Linked DNA regions of Homo sapiens: region 1 is linked to region 2. The links come from fine-mapping of genetic effects on gene expression. Tissue or cell type: monocytes after interferon gamma. Region 2 holds a variant in brackets; the other region holds the start of a gene. All regions are shown on one strand. Distances are from middle to middle. Region 1 holds the start of PDGFB (platelet derived growth factor subunit B). Region 2 has its middle 21 kb from the start of PDGFB.

What was found. PIP is the estimated chance that this variant, and not a neighbour inherited with it, causes the effect. A credible set is the group of variants that fine-mapping cannot tell apart.
Region 1: it holds the start of PDGFB, and the variant in region 2 is the best candidate, but not a certain one, in a credible set for the expression of PDGFB in monocytes after interferon gamma (Fairfax 2014, PIP 0.53).

Annotation. Positions count from the first base shown.
Region 1 is chr22:39,241,544-39,249,866 of GRCh38, reverse strand. It overlaps PDGFB (platelet derived growth factor subunit B), which reads left to right and starts at 4,885. Exons shown (of 7, transcript NM_002608.4): 1 at 4,885-5,966. The coding sequence starts at 5,904. RefSeq lists a silencer at 6,751-6,830.
Region 2 is chr22:39,261,521-39,269,843 of GRCh38, reverse strand. No RefSeq gene overlaps it. Among named protein-coding and RNA genes, the nearest start is that of PDGFB, 21 kb to the right of the region's middle. RefSeq lists enhancers at 473-1,005, 2,774-3,043, 3,224-3,303, 6,925-7,424. The variant TC/C (reference allele first, on the strand shown) is at 3,577.

The DNA of each region.
Region 1 (8,323 bases), 20 kb after region 2:
CTAGCGCTGGCTCTGGAGCTCAGAGGTGAATTTGCAAGTGAGGTAGGGGTGTGTGTGTGTGTGTGTGTGTGTGTGTGTGTGTGTGTGCGCGCGCGCGCAGAGCCTGCAGTAATAACCATCACTGTGATGACCAACATCTGTGGGGTGCTCACTCCAGGCTTTATCACTTCAGGTGAATTAACTCATTTAACCCAGTGAGGTAGGGACTATTGTCCCTACGACTTACAGAGGAGGAACGTGAGGCTCAGGAAGGTTAAGGAATTTGCTTAAGGTCACAGAGTTAGTAGATGGTAGGGCAGGGCTTTGAACCCAGGTGGTCTTTGACGGGAAGCCTAGTCCCTTGCCCTCTCTCAGCCTCACTTTCCTCATCTGTACAATGGGCATATACGATGGCAATGCCTTCTCCCTGGGCGACTGTGAGGGTGAGGCAGGCAGAGGGGAAGGAAGTGCTTTGTGGACAGCCAAAGGCCCTGTAGACAGGGAGGCAGGGGATGGGGCAGCAAGGGGCATGGGGGAGCTGATGAGGGCCACGCGGAGTGGGGTAGGGCTTGGAGTTTCAGACCATTTGTGGCATGGTCTTGGACGGTCTCCAGCTTAGAGCCTCACTTCCTCTCCATCAAGTATGGAGAAGCAGAGCTGCCTGGCCCAGGTGTTGCTGGCCCCTCTCAGTGGCGGGGAGGCTCCCAGTGATCATCGCTCTCACCTTTCTGGACTTGAGGGCGTGAGTTTGCCCCCGGGATGGAACCCAACTCCTTCCTTGGTATTTCTTCACCCCAGCCAGTGTCCTGGACCCCCACGCCCAGGGTGTAAGATGCTCTTCATGGATGAGGGCTTGGATAGCTCTGAGCACACAGTCTAAAAAGCCCCCAACCTTGGGCAGCACCCCCATCCCCCACGGCTGTGGCCACTCTTTTTCCCTTTGGCTCAGATCTGTCCTGGAGTGGAGGGTGGAGAGTTACGGGGGTGTGGGCGCCCCCATCCCTAGCTCTGCTGGAGAACCTTATTTCCCAGTGGCCTGAACGCGAAGATGGGCGGGGGCCTTCCCAGTTCTCTCATTCAAGTGCTCCTCAGACCCAGCCCTGATGAAGTTCCGAGGTCAGATGAGACCACGTGCATTCAGGGTGGTGTGGCTTCAGACCCTTCCCAGTTCTGATACCTCCAGAAGGGGTGCCCTTCAGGGGCCCTGTGCTTCCAAGCTTAGAGGCTCATGCTACAAGCCCCTCCCCAACTCTTTCCACCCTTTAGGAAGGGCCTGGCATCTCTGCAATAACTGGTCAGGACTCAGAAAGAGAAATTGGCAGGATTTTAATCATTTATTCATTCCTTCAGCGAGCGGCACTTCCTGAGCAGCCACTGTATGCTAGGAGCTGGCAGGAGGCCCTTGAACACTCTGGACTCAGTCTAGTGCTAGATTGATGATCAGGCCATGACGATGCCAGGTGTGCATGCTGTGGAGCCTGGAACAAGTGCCAAGCCTGGTGGGCCTTCTGGAGGAGGTGCCTGCTACACCCAGCCTGGCAGGAGGCAGACGATCAGGTGTTATTAAAAAAAAATTTTTAGGCTGGGTGTGGTGGTTCATGCCTGTAATCCCAGCACTTCGGGAGGCTGAGTGGGGCAGATCACTTGAGGTCAGGAGATCGAGAGCACCCTGGTCAACATGGTGAAACCGTCTCTACTAAAAATACAAAAATTAGCTGGGCATGGTGGCAGGCGCCTGTGGTCTCAGCTACTCGGGAGGCTGAGGCAGGAGAATCGCTTGAACCTGGGAGGCAGAGGTTGCAGTGAGAAGAGATCGCACCACGGCACTCCAGCCTCGGCGACAGACCGAGACCCCGTCTCTGAGATGGCTCACTGCAGTCTTGAACTCCTGGGCTCAGGGGATTCTCCCTCCTGACTCAGCCTCCTGAGTAGCTGGGGCCACACTCAGATATATATATATATATATATATATATATATATATATATATATATATATATTTTTTTTTTTTTTTTTTTTTTTTTTTGGTAATTTTTTTTAAGAGATGGGATCTCGCTATGTTGCTGAGGCTGGTCTCGAACTCCTGGCTGCACATGATCCTCTGGCCTCAGCCTCCCAAATTGCTGGGAATACAGGGGTGAGCCACCGTGCCTGGGGAGGTGTTCTTTACAGACTGTTCCTCTGCACAGAGAAGGTACAAGAAAGGAGCCCTTAGCACAACATTCAGGCCCAGGTGTCACGCAGGTGTCACGTAGCATTCAGGCCCAGGTGTCTGCTGGGCCCTCTTCTGCCACTTCTAACCCATGTACTGGCACCTGCACTGCAATGATTTGGGTCTATCTCACTGAGAGCATGGGAAGTCCCTGAGTGCCGAGGCTGGGACTCCTTCCTCATTCCATTTCTCAGCGCTTCACACAGGGTCTGCAAACAGTAGGCGTTCTACGATGCTGCTCTGAGTAGCCTTCCCTCTCCCTCAACTTGTACCTAAGTCAGAGTTCATATGGGTCCATCACTTTTTAGCTGGCAGAGCAGGTTCCCACATATTAATGCATGTGGCGCTCACCAAAGCGCTGTGTCAAAAGTGTCATCATTGTCATCAGCATCACCTGCCAGAAAATTGCACAGCACGGTGGTCTCAGCATGTGGGCTCTGTAGCTGGACTGCTCAGATTCAAGTCCTGGCCTTACCACTTACGGGCTGTGTGACCTTGAACAAGTGTATTGGCCTCTCTGTGCTTCCATTTCCCCATCTGTAAGATAGGAATAACACATCTCACAGGAGCATGGAGAGGCTACAGGTAGAGTAAGAAAAACACTAGCTACCACATAGTCAGCTCACTAATCATGGTAGTTGTTACCATTCTATTTATAGAAGACACAGAAGGTCAAGGTCAAATGACCCAGCTGTCCGGTGGAAGAGGGTTTTTATCTCTGAGTCGTTAGACTTCAAATCTAGTGTTTGGGGGTTATCTCCTCGTCCCGCTGCCCCATCTCCCTTGTCACCCTGTCTCCTAATTTATCTGTTTATACATCTGGTTGTCCTTCTCAATGGGGCTCTTCAAAGGCAGGGGCCTGCATTAGGCTGGTTCACACCTGTCTCCCCAGTGCCTGGAGCAGTGCGGGGCCACCAGTGAACTTGAAGGCTGCATGGAAGGTTCCAGGCGCTTGCTTCCTGCTAAGGTGTTTTGCTGAGCGCCTCCACATGGAGGACCTCATGGGAGCCTCCAGACCACTCCAGGAGCAGGGTAAAAATTCTCTACAACTGCACTGAGGTACAACAAACTGCACACATTTTGTTGTGATGTACGTATACACCCATAAGCCCATCACCACAATCAAAAATGACAAACATTTCCATCACCACTAAAATTTTGCCATGCCTCTCTGTTCTCTCTCACTCCTTCCCATTATAGATTTATTTTTATTTCTTTAGAGATAGGGTCTTGCTCTGTTGCCCAGGCTGGAGTGCAGTGGCACAGTCACAACTCACTGCAGCCTCAAACTCCTGGGCTCAAAACGATCCACAGTCTCCTGAGTAGCTGGGACTACAGGAGCTTGTTACCACACCCAGCTCCAGTTTATAAATTCATCTCCAGTTTATAAAGGAGGAAACCGAGGTACTGAGAGGTTAAAAAACCTTCCTGCAGACACTTGTCCAGCAAGTGGCCACTCCAGGATTTGGACCAAGGTGATGTGTCTTCAGGCTGTGTCTCTGCCACTGTGCCACGCTGCTGGGTGGTAGGCAGCAGTGGGTGGGTGCCTGCAGTGGTCTGTAAAGACCACCTGAGATGTCCTTCCTCCTCTGTTCCACCCTGTCCAGGTCCAAGAAGACAGTCTATGAAGAGAGAGCAGGTGTGACTCTCTCAGTGTGCTCCTCTGTGAGAAGCAGGCTGACATCCCAAAGGGAAGGGCGGATAACAGAGACAGTGCAAGCGGAGGAGATGAGGGTGCCTCAAAGCCGGGAGGCTGGGTGATGCAGGAGCCTGCGTGTCCCGAGGGGGGTGCTGGGCCCAGTGTGAGTACGTGTGACTGTGACTGAGACAGTGTGACTGCTGAAGGCAGGGACACAGCAGCTCCCTGACTGGGGGCAGAAGGCGTTAACTGTGTGAAGGCTGGTTGTGGGTGGGTGGGCTCTGGGCCTCGAACCCGGGGGCTGAGGGAGATAGTAAACAGCAGGGTGACTGACGGGAAGATCATGTTGGTAGCCCTGCGAAGATGCTGCAGGGCTGTGGGGGTTTGTGTGACTTTGCAGTTCAACAAATTCAAATTCAGCCAACGCTGGCAGGGCCTGTTGTGCCAGGCAACCAGCTAGGAGGAGGAGACTCGGACCCAGCTTGCAGCTGAAGGGCGCTGGCTGCCGGGTTCTGTGGGTTCACCTTGCGGTGTCTTCCCTTGCTAACACTGAGTCCTTACAATAGCCCCATCTCCAGGTTGAGGCTAGATGGAGGGGACAGAGGGAAGTGACTTGCCCAAGGTGACCCAAGCTCCCGAGTGCCAGGGCAGGATCTGAATTCAGGCTCTCAGACTGCAGAGCCTGAGTCCCTCCCTGCCATGCCTGTGCCAGGGTGGAAATGTCTGGTCCTGGAGGGGAGCGTGGACTCCTGGCCTTGGCTCTGGAGACATCCCCCTAGACCACGTGGGCTCCTAACCTGTCCATGGTCACTGTGCTGAGGGGCGGGACGGTGGGTCACCCCTAGTTCTTTTTTCCCCAGGGCCAGATTCATGGACTGAAGGGTTGCTCGGCTCTCAGAGACCCCCTAAGCGCCCCGCCCTGGCCCCAAGCCCTCCCCCAGCTCCCGCGTCCCCCCCCTCCTGGCGCTGACTCCGGGCCAGAAGAGGAAAGGCTGTCTCCACCCACCTCTCGCACTCTCCCTTCTCCTTTATAAAGGCCGGAACAGCTGAAAGGGTGGCAACTTCTCCTCCTGCAGCCGGGAGCGGCCTGCCTGCCTCCCTGCGCACCCGCAGCCTCCCCCGCTGCCTCCCTAGGGCTCCCCTCCGGCCGCCAGCGCCCATTTTTCATTCCCTAGATAGAGATACTTTGCGCGCACACACATACATACGCGCGCAAAAAGGAAAAAAAAAAAAAAAAGCCCACCCTCCAGCCTCGCTGCAAAGAGAAAACCGGAGCAGCCGCAGCTCGCAGCTCGCAGCTCGCAGCCCGCAGCCCGCAGAGGACGCCCAGAGCGGCGAGCGGGCGGGCAGACGGACCGACGGACTCGCGCCGCGTCCACCTGTCGGCCGGGCCCAGCCGAGCGCGCAGCGGGCACGCCGCGCGCGCGGAGCAGCCGTGCCCGCCGCCCGGGCCCCGCGCCAGGGCGCACACGCTCCCGCCCCCCTACCCGGCCCGGGCGGGAGTTTGCACCTCTCCCTGCCCGGGTGCTCGAGCTGCCGTTGCAAAGCCAACTTTGGAAAAAGTTTTTTGGGGGAGACTTGGGCCTTGAGGTGCCCAGCTCCGCGCTTTCCGATTTTGGGGGCCTTTCCAGAAAATGTTGCAAAAAAGCTAAGCCGGCGGGCAGAGGAAAACGCCTGTAGCCGGCGAGTGAAGACGAACCATCGACTGCCGTGTTCCTTTTCCTCTTGGAGGTTGGAGTCCCCTGGGCGCCCCCACACGGCTAGACGCCTCGGCTGGTTCGCGACGCAGCCCCCCGGCCGTGGATGCTCACTCGGGCTCGGGATCCGCCCAGGTAGCGGCCTCGGACCCAGGTCCTGCGCCCAGGTCCTCCCCTGCCCCCCAGCGACGGAGCCGGGGCCGGGGGCGGCGGCGCCCGGGGGCCATGCGGGTGAGCCGCGGCTGCAGAGGCCTGAGCGCCTGATCGCCGCGGACCCGAGCCGAGCCCACCCCCCTCCCCAGCCCCCCACCCTGGCCGCGGGGGCGGCGCGCTCGATCTACGCGTCCGGGGCCCCGCGGGGCCGGGCCCGGAGTCGGCATGAATCGCTGCTGGGCGCTCTTCCTGTCTCTCTGCTGCTACCTGCGTCTGGTCAGCGCCGAGGTGAGTTGCCACGGCGGCTGGGGCTGGTTCTTCATTCATTACCTTCGCCCCCCCCTTCTGACCGCCCCCTCCTCTCCCTGCAGTGAACTTTGGACCCTTGCAGCCCGCGAGCCTGACGCCGGGCGCTGGGTGACCTCTTCGGGCTGGGAGCGAGGTCCGGGGGTGACAGGCTCTAAGGGAAGGCAACAGCGGTGGCTTTCTTTCCAACCGGCGGGCGAATCTGGCTCCCTAAGCCGTTCCGTGTCGGGGGAGGGTGTGTGTGGCCCTGTCCCCCACCCTTTGGGAACCCGAGAACAAGCCCCTTCCCGGCCGGGGGAGAGGGGGTGGGGTGGTGCCCAGGGTGCAGAAGGCAGCGCGTCCTCCCGAGCCCACTTCGGCGCCAGCCTCGGCTTAGGCTCTGTCCTGCCATCGGCTTGCCCAGGAGGTGCAAGCTTGCGCACCGGTGCCATCCACGCCGACCTTTGACGGGGCTCGGGTCCCACCCTGGCTCCCGGTCGGGGTCCGGGTGGACGCCCTCCGGCACGCGCAGGGCATGCCCGGCCCCAGAGCACGGTCTGGAAGCAGCTTGTGTCTCGGGCGCGGGGTTTGGGGTGGGAGTAACAGGGAGAGAGAGAGAGAGAGAGAGAAAGAGAGAGAGAGAGAGAGAGACGGAGAGAGAGACGGAGAGAGAGAGGGAGAGAAAGATAGAGACGCAGGTAGGTTTCGGGCACTCGGGTAGGGGGAGGACTAGGGGCTCTGAAGGAATCCAGCCCCCGGGGCGCTGTGTGCCTGAGGCCTTGCCGTACCTGTGCCCGCGCCCTGCAGGAGGAAGCACCTCTCTCCCCCGCATGCAGGGTGCGGAGCGCGCCGCCTGCAAAAGCCTAGCTGCACGGGAGATGGGGTATAAAAACATCTGAGGGAGCGCTGGGGTCGGAGCCGTCCCCACCCCTCCCAGCCTCACGTAGCCGTGAGTTGGCAAGTCTACCCGGAATCCAGGTGGGAAAGGGGGCGGGGCAGGACGACGCGCGCGGTGGAGGGGAGGAGAGGGCAGCCGGGAGCGCGGCGTGACTGGGTACCGTCCCACCTCCGCCCGGCTGCGGCCGGGAGTCCGCACCTCGCCCGCACCTCGCCGGCTCCCGGGGAGGGTCGGCCCCTGCGGCCTCCAGCCAGGCGCAGGAAGGAGGCAGCGGCGGCGAAGGGGTTAAGGCGGAGGGCTCGGAGGCCGCGGCCCGGCCTTGGGCTGCCGCCAGCGCAGGTTGTTTTGACCACGGAGGAGCCGTCGCCGTCTCCTTTTGTTCTCGGGGCTCCTCGAGGGCCGCAGGCCGCCCGCCCGGGGGCCCCGCCCTTCCGCGGCCGCCCCCCGCGGCCCGCACCCGGGAGGGAGGACGCGGGGCTCGGCCGGGCCGCCTTCAGGCCCCTCCCGACGCCCCCTCTCCGCCTCTCCCGCAGCCCCCCGGGCCGCGGCCAGCTGTTGGGGAGGGGGTGGCCGGCCGGCCCCAGCTGCCGCCTCGCCTCGCCGTGGGACCTGGGGGCTGGGCCCGGTGCCAGGGCGTCCTGGGAACGGCGGCGCCCCGTGGCTGCTCTCCGCAGCCCACCCCGCCCGGGCCCCCGACTCGCTCACTCACCCCACGCATGCACACTCCTGGCCGGAGGCGATGCTGCGCTCCGGCGGGCGGGCGCGCAGAGCGACGGGCACGCACTACCGCGGCCAGGTCGCGCGCCCGCCTCTGCCACGCCCGTGCACACGCGGGACACACGCGCGCGCACCGCACACAAACGCACGCACGGCCCCTGCACGCGCGGCCTGAGCACACGTGCGCGCACACCCACGCACGTACACAGGCACGCACGGGCCCCCGTGCACCCAGCGCCTGGTGCTCGCCCCCGCGCAACAGGTGGGCCCTCCGTGGGCCCTGGCACCTCACCACCTCTGTAGCGGCCCCATTTCCTTCCTGGCGTCCTGTGAGGGAGGGAGAACCTCCCATCAGCACCACAGCACCTACTTTTTTTTTTGCCTCGTCAGCCCGACGCCCCTCAAACCTTACCCATCTGTGACTCCTTTTTTTCAACCACCTCCGCGTGGTGGAAAATGGTGGTGATGTGACTCTGAGGGGCACTGAGCTGTCCAGAGCGATTCCCCCTTCACATAAGCCTTCATTTGAACCTGCAAGACTGGAGGGACCTGGCGTGTGCAACCGCGGAGGGGGCTCCCACCCCTGGCTGTTGCATTCTCTTGGCTGATCCCAGCGTGCCCCGGGGAGGCCGCTGACAGCTGGATGTTTCCCCAGCCTCCCCTTACCATTTCCAGCTTCGTCCAGCACCTCCTCCTTCTTTCCCACAGCTCCACGGGCTCGTGTATCTGGGGTGGAGGCTGTGGC
Region 2 (8,323 bases):
CATGGCTTCCTCCCTCCCTGGGCTTAGTCTCCTCAGCTATAAAATGAGACGGTGGGGCTGGGGGCTCTAGGCTCCCCGCATTCTGTGAGCCCATGACCCCGGGGGTGGGTGCTCCCCTGTTCATTAATAATAAGATGACCACTTACTGGGGTGTCCACCAGGGGCTCTTCCCGTGAAGGCTCACAGTGACCGGGAGGGAGGAACTCCACTACAGTCTGTTTTAGAGGTGAGGAAGCCAAGGCGCAGGGTGGTTAGGAAATGCCTCAGGTCATGCAGCCAGTGTAGGGTGAAGCTGGGGTTTTCTGGGCCACCCTAGGCCAGCAGCCGTCCTACTGTCCTGCAGTCACTGCTGTTTCTTCCTTTCTCTCTTAATCCACATGGAGCTGAGGGGGTGGGAGGTGGCTGGGGTTTGGAGTGCGAGCGGGGGGTCTCCCGTGGGAGGCAGTGGAAACTTGGGAATGTGTAAGTCACTGGTGCTGGTGCTCTAGTCTCTCCCATCCAGTCAGGGCCACACCTCCCTCTGGGCTGGACCGGAGCTCTGAAGCTAGCTGTAAACCCTCCCTGGGGTCAGGGAGGGCTCCCTGGAGGAGGTGGCGTCTCAGCTGAGCAAGAGTAAGCATGAAGCAGGTAAAGGCAGGAGGAGAGGGTGTTCTGGGCAGAGGGAGGCTCTCCTCAAATAGGAAACCTCCAACCTGACTTTTGAGCTCTGGCTCTCAGGCCCATGTCCACAGTGGTCTTAGACCTCTGCTGCCCTGGGGACCCTCTGAGCTGCCCCTGGCTGCGGTGGGGCAGTCTGTCCCCCTGCCAGGGTCTCCCAGGACCTGACAGTTTTCCCACTGGACTGTCAGGCAGGCGTGGCCAAAAGCCTGGACTCAGGATCCGAGTCGCTCTGGTTCAAATCCTGCCCCTGTCCCTTGTAGCTCTGTCACCTCAGCCAAGTGACTTCATCTTCTTGTGACTTGTCTCTGGATTACAATCATTAACATCCCTCCAGCCGAGTCAGGAATGGCCAGGACCCAATGAATGTGTGCAGAAAGGACGGCCAAGAAGCTCAGTGTGGTGTGTGTCAAGGTAGCCAGGTCGGGCCTGGGCAGAGGGGGTGCCACGACTGAGCTCCAATCCCTGGGGGCCCTCTGGGACCTGGGCCCAGTGTGGCCAGGCCTACAGAGTGTTCAGAAGAAGTCAGAAATCCAGACTCTTGTGAAATCTCCCAAGTTTTAAGGGAAGGCCAAATGTTAGAAAACAGTTTGGGGCTGAGGAAAACCAGGACCCTGCCCTTAGAGCTGATAGATGTCACCCTCTGCCGGCCCACCTGTCCCCAGGTGGGATGCAAATGAGAAGCCATGCAAACGAACACCTCACATTGCATATAACCAAATGCGGAGGTGGGTGAGGATATACCCTTCTTCCCATCATGCCTTGTGGTAGAAACGCCTGGAGGGCACAGGCTTTGACTGTCCATTGCCGGGTCTCTGGAGCCCGGACCTGCGCCTGGCACACAGTGGGTTCACCTTCTCTGTTGAATCGAATGAATGAATGAAAATGATTAGATGGAAGCATGATGACAGAGATAGGCGAGAGACAGAGGAAGGAGCGTGGGCATGGCTAACCGGCTGAGTGGCCATGAGCAGTGTATGTCACCTCCTGGGGCTTCTCTGCTCCTCTGTAGACCAGGCATGGCTCAGGTCCTTAGAAAAGCAACTGGGTTGAGTCAGAAGCATATCACACATGGCTTGCTGACCCAGGAATTCCATGCCAGCCAAGGAGCAACCCCTAAATATGGAAAAAGGAAAGCTATCTGTAGAAAGATATTAATCGAAATATATTATTTATAGCTTCGAAAAACTGGAAATAACTGAGATTTCCAACAATGAGGGAATGGCAAAATAAACCATGGAATATGGTTTGACAAAATATTAGGCAGCCAATAAAAATGAGGTTCAGAGAAGAGGAAAAAGAAACGAGATTACAGAGAGTGAAAGAACTAGAAAAGTGGCCATGATATAATGGCAGGTCAAAAAGGCAGGATACCACCTTTTTTTTTTCTTTTAATATACAGTATGACCTCAGCCCCATTTTTTTTTTAAAGTCCTCAAACAAAAAACTATGGAAGGAAATACATCAAACCTTAACAATGATTGTCTCTGGGTGGTGGGGCTGTGGGTGGTGATTTTTCTTCCTTATTTTGACTTTTCTGCAATTTTTAGATTTTCATAAATGAACATGTATTGTTGCTTTTATGGTAAAGATATTAAAAATGATTTTTTTTTGACGGAGTCTTGCTCTGTCGCCCAGGCTGGAGTGCAGTGGCATGATCTTGGCTCACTGCAACCTCCGCCTCATAGGTTCAAGTGATTCTCCTGCCTCAGCCTCCCGAGTAGCTGGGACTACAGGCGTCCGCCACCACTCCTGACTATTTTTTTTTTGCATTTTTAGTAGAGACAGGGTTTCACCATATTGGCCAGACTGGTCTCGAACTCCTGACCTTGTGATCCGCCCACCTCGGCCTCCCAAAGTGCTGGGATTACAGGCATGAGCCACTGTGCCCGGCCAAGACATTAAAAATGAAAAAAAAAAATCAAAGGAATTCGGGGTGGGGATGGGGTGGATGCTGTCTGTGCTCTGCCCTCGAGTCTCTGAGAGGGAGTTGGCATCAGGGAAGGTTCTAGGCTTGGAGGTGGCAGCCAGGTGTCAGGGGCTGCCTGTGTGATCCTGGGCAGATCCCTTTAGGCCTCAGTGGCACATCCTGTCAGATGGGGCCTGGTCACCTACTTTTCTTTTTTCTTTTGGAGAAAGGGTCTCATTCCTGTTGCCCAGACTGGTGTGCAGTGGCATGCCATCATGGCTCACTGCACTCTTGACTTCCCGGCTCAGGTGATCCTCCCACCTCAGCCTCCTGAGTAGCTGGAACTACAGGTTTGTGCCACCACACCCGGCTAATTTTTTGTATTTTTAGTAGAGACAGGGTTTCACCATGTTGCCCAAGCTGGTCTTTAAACTCCTGGCCTCAAGTGATCCGCCCACCAGCCTCCCAGAGTGCTGGGATTACTGACGTGAGCCACTGCATCTGCACCCGGGCCTCTGGCCACCTATTTGACAGAGCGTGTAGCAAGAACAGGAAGGGAACGTGGCTGAAAACAGTATCGTTGTTAGTTCTTAGGAAGGCCAGTTCTGTTTTCAGACACCCGGAAAGATGTCAGCGTTCTTACTGGGGTGTCCCTGGGAGTATTTTTAGTCCCAGAGGTACAGATGTTCCTGACTCATTTTGGAAAGTAGAACTGGGGTGATCTCTAGACACGCATCACTCTGTGTGGGAGGGGCATGGCCAGGAAGTCAGAGTCCTGGGTTCTAGGGCTGGCTCTTCCCATACTGCTGTGTGATCTTAGACGAGTCACTCAGGCTTCCTGGGCCTCAGCTTCCCCTGTGCAATGGGCTTTGGACACAGAGATCACTAAGATGAATAAACTCTCTGTTTAAACGAGGCCTTCTCCCCCAGGCCCTAAGGGGCAGGAACCCAGGAGTCTGAGAGTGAGCCCCTTACCGGCTGTGGTCCCCAGAAACTTTTTTTTTTTTTTT[TC/C]TTGAGACGGAGTTTCACTCTTGTTACTCCAGGCTGGAGTGCAGTGGCACAATCTCGGCTCATTGCAACCTCTGCCTCCCGGGTTCAAGCGATTCTCCTGCCTCAGCCTCCCGAGTAGCTGGGACTACAGGCGCGTGCCATCACGCCCTGCTAATTTTTGTATTTTATTAGAGATGGGGTTTCATGATGTTGGCCAGGATGGTCTTGATCTCTTGACCTCATGATCCACCCGCCTCGGCCTCCCAAAGTGCTGGGATTACAGGTGTGAGCCACTGTGCCCAGCCTCCCAGAACCTTCATATGTGTCCTGTTACCTTATTTCCAGCCACCCTTCCCTAGGGGAGTATGTATGTGTGTAAGGGTATGTGTGTGTGGGTCTATGGAAACTCAGTTCACCATGATGGGATCACCTTGTTTCCCTGGACCTCCTCAATGGTATTCCACTGCTCGGAGTGTCTAGTGGTGGGGGAGGATGGAGGCTGCCTCGGAGCAGGTGGTGTGTCCAGGAAGAGAGTGCCTGTGATGGACCGGACGCCCGTCCGTGTGGTGTGCACACACATCCCCAGCCCGCGCGAGCAGGGAGCTGTGATGGGGCCCGGGGAGTTTCTGGCTACCCTTGTCCTTGGTGCCATGAGGAACCTCAGAAAGGACTCAGTCCTGAGCACTCCCAGGCTCCCACTCTGACACATGTAGTAGATGTGTGCGACAAGCACATCACGTCCCTGTAGACGCAGCTCAAAGCCTAATCATGGTGCATGCACTTTCTGTGCTTTCTACAGGCCCAGCTTTCCACAGAACCAGCGCCAGGAACCTTCAGAACGATTCTGTGAGACAGGCACTGATTCTCTTCAGCATTTACTGATGGGGAAACAGAGGCTCAGAGAAGTTAAGAAACTCACCCAAGGTCACACAGCAGCAAGTGGCAGGCAGGATTCAAACCCAGGCTGTCTGGATCAGGCCCACACCGTGACTCACGCATAGACTCTTCCAGCTGCTGCTCTGGCGATAAGGAGAAGCCCAGCAGAGACCGGTGGCTTTCCACGGTCACGTCGCAGATTAGTGCAGAGCCCAGGCACACTCCAGGACCCTGGACTTGGGAATGGGTTCTTTGCCCATGAACGTGAGTGGAGCCATCTGTCAGAGTCCTGGCTTCTATGCCCAGCACGGGCCAGGCAAGCAGGCCAGTGGAGAATGTGTCAATTGGACCTGAATAGCTTTCCATTTATCACCAGTCTATCCTTGTGCCAAGCCCTGTACCAGGCCCTGGGGTACAGAGACGAGCAAGACTCATTTTCTGCTCATAACCCAGGGACTTCCAGAAGGAGGTGACGTTGAGATTTGGTCAGATGGAGGAGGGCAGACAGGGCGTTCCGGGCTGGGGAAATGTCTGATGCATCTGGGGAATCTCCATGGTTTCTGGGAGGGTTGGGGAAAGCAAAGGAGAGGAGTTTTTGAGGGTCTGACGCTGCTGGGGGCAGGTGGGTGGGTCAGGGAGTGGGGACAGCTGCTGAGTCCACTGAGGCTCTGGAAGTTTCAGGCCCACCCTGGGGACGGAGATGTAGTCTAGGGAAGGACGTGCCCTCCACTTCTGGGTCACAGCTGGAAGGGGAAGTGGGGGCTGGGCACAGGGTCTGAGGTCACAAGGCAGGGACAGGGAGATGGTAGATCAGTACCCCAGCTGGTCCCTCAGAGGCGGGGAGGGGAGAGGGAAGCAGACCCAGCACCCGGCTTCTCTGACCACAGCTCCTGCGGCGCCTCCTCACTCACTTCCCCAATGCGACAAGCTCGTCCCCACCACAGGGCCTTTGCACCTGCTGTTCCTCCTGCCTGAAAATGCTCTCTCCTTTCAGCCACTTGCCTCCCCAGAGCAGGCTCCAATTTGCTCATTTGTTCACTGTCTGTTCCCCTCTTGGGACATGGGCTCCATGATGGCAGGCTTGGTCTGTCTTTGCCACTGACTCCCGGCTCCAAGCACCGTGCCCAGCACACAGTGGGCCCTCAGCAACAGCACTGAGCACTTGCTATGTGCCAGGCACGCCTCATGGGCAGTAACTCATTTAATTCTCAAAACAACCCTCTGGGTAGGGGACTAGGGGCCTGAAGCTGAGTCAGTCTCGAGATCTTCTTCCAGGAAAACACATGATTGTGGGTATGAGAGAGGCAGGGTGCCTTGGAAGGGGCCATGCACATGAGGCATGCCAGAGCTTAGGAGTCAGGAGCCAAAGGGCAAATATGCCCCTGCCTCTGGGGTGGGGGGTAGCCCCATGGTAGATGTGAGGAAACTGAGGCACAGAGAGATTAAGTAAGTTGCCCCTTTGGCTCGCAAGTGGCAGCCCTGGGATTTGATCCCAGGAGGTGTGGGTTCAAAGATCCCAGGAGATTTGGATGCTATATATAGCTTTAACTCAATCAATATTTGTTGACTATGTGAGCGACTGGTTAGGCCTTGACAAATGATTCACCTTCTCTAAGCATCAGTTTCAACATCTGAAGTATGGGGTGTATCTTAAATAGGCAGGAGAGCAACCCATCTTGAGAGGCTCGACGCCCCTTCTCTTACTCTCTCACCCACTGGGTGCTATGGTTTGAATATTTGTTCCGTCCAAAACTCACGTTTTAAGGAAACTTAATCCCCAGTGTGGCAATGTTGAGAGGTGGGCCCTTTAAGAGGTGATGGGGTCAGGAGGGCTCCGTTCTCAAGAATAGATTAATCCATTTGTGGACTAATGGGATAATGGGTTATCATGGGAGGGGAAGGAAGAGAGGCCTGAGCATGTTAGCCCGCCCAGCTCCCTCACCATGGGATGCCCTGCGCCATCTTGGGAACCTGCAGAGAGTCCCCACCAGCAAGAAGTCCCTCACCAGCTGTGGCCCCTCAACCTTGGCCCTCTCAGGCTTCACACCTGTAGGAAATAAATTCCTTTTCTTTATAAAGCATCCAGTTTCAAGGCCGGGCGCGGTGGCTCACGCCGGTAATCCCAACACTTTGGGAGGCCAAGGCGGGCAGATTACAAGGTCAAGAGATTGAGACCGTCCTGGCCAACATGCTGAAACCTGTCTCTACTAAAAATACAAAAATTAGCTGGGTGTGGTGGCGGGCGCCTGTAGTCCCAGCTACTCAGGAGGCTGAGGCAGGAGAACTGCTTGAATGTGGGAGGCAGACGTTGCAGTGAGCTGAGGTCGCAACACTGCATTCCGGCCTGGCAACAGAGCGAGACTCTGTTTCCAAAAAATAAATAAATAAACAAAGTATCCAGTTTCAGGTATTCTGTTATAAGCAACAGAAAGCAGACTAAGCAAGGGTTTCAACTGGGCGGAAAGGTTCTGGTGTCCTTCATTCATTCAACAGACATTTGAAGGTCTATTTTGTGCAGGGCCTGCTCTATGCACTGAGGATAAAGCAGTAAAAACAAAGTCCCTGTTGGCAAGGGCTCATATAATGATGGGAAGAGGTAGACAACAGACAATTGAGATCTAACTTATCACCACCATGAGGAGGCGGGGCATTCAACAGAGAGAAATCAAGCAGAGGAGACTAGGGACTTTGGTGGAGGGGAAGTGGGGGTGGGGAGGCCTCCCCAGGGAGGTGATGTTTTAGCTGAGAGCTGAAGGGCTGAGGGATGGAGCCAGCCAGACACCTGGGGGAAAAGAACTAGGTAGAGGGAACGGCGCTGTCAATGGCTCTGAGGAAGGGAAGTGCTTGGTGAGTTTGGGGACACAGCCAAGAGGCCCGAGGGGCTGCAGCAGAGAGAGGTGGGGCGGGTGGGCCAAACTGAGGTCAGATAGGTCCTGGGGCAGGTCTTGTTGGGCCTGTGGGTCACTGTCAGGACTTGAGTGCCATGGGAGCCACTGGAGGGCTCTGAGCAGGGTCATCTCTGCCCTGTAGCCCCACTTGGGCTGCTGTGCAGGGGACAGACTGCAGGGTCGGGGCAGAAGTCAGGAGGCTACCACAGCCATCCAGGCAGGAGGTGACAGTGGCTTGGATTTGGGTAGTGGGTAGAGATGTGAGATGGGTTGGCTTCTAGGTTATTCTGAACTTCAGTCCAACAGGATTTGCAATGGGTCATGATCTAACTAGCTACTGCTGCATAACAAACCAACCCCAAATGTAGTAGCTTAAAACAACAAGAATCACTGGATCATTTCTCATAGTTTCTGTGGGTCAGGAATTTGGGAAGGGCTTAGCTGGGTGGGCTTGCTTGGGGTCTCCATGCAGTTGCAATTGCAGTTGCACTTCGTAGCTAGAGCAGGTGCAGTGGGCACTGGCCGGGCCTCTCTCTCCTCCCCTTGTACTCTCTGGGTCCCTCTGTTGGGTCTCTCCGTGTGGGCTGATTGAGCTTCCTCACAGCATGGCAGCTCAGGACTCCTGAGGCAAGCGTCCCAGGAAAACCAAGCAGAAACAATATTGCTTTTGATGACCCAGCCTCAGAGGCCACAGAGCTTTGGTTCTGTGGATTCCAGTTTATCTGGATTCAAGGAAAGGGAATGCAGACCTCACCTCTCCACAGGAGGAACATCAATATGGCATTGCAAGAGGAGCATGTGGGATATCAGGCATTGTTGTGGTCCCTGCTGGAAAATGCAGCCTGCCAGAGATTGACGAAGCTGAATTTTTATCCTGTCACTGTGTGTCCATGGGCAAGCTGCTCAGCCCCTTGATATCTCTGTTTCCTCATTTATAAAAGAGAGCAGAGACCAGCTGCCTCCTCAGATTGGGATTCCATATGGGCCATGCCTCTTGTGGGGA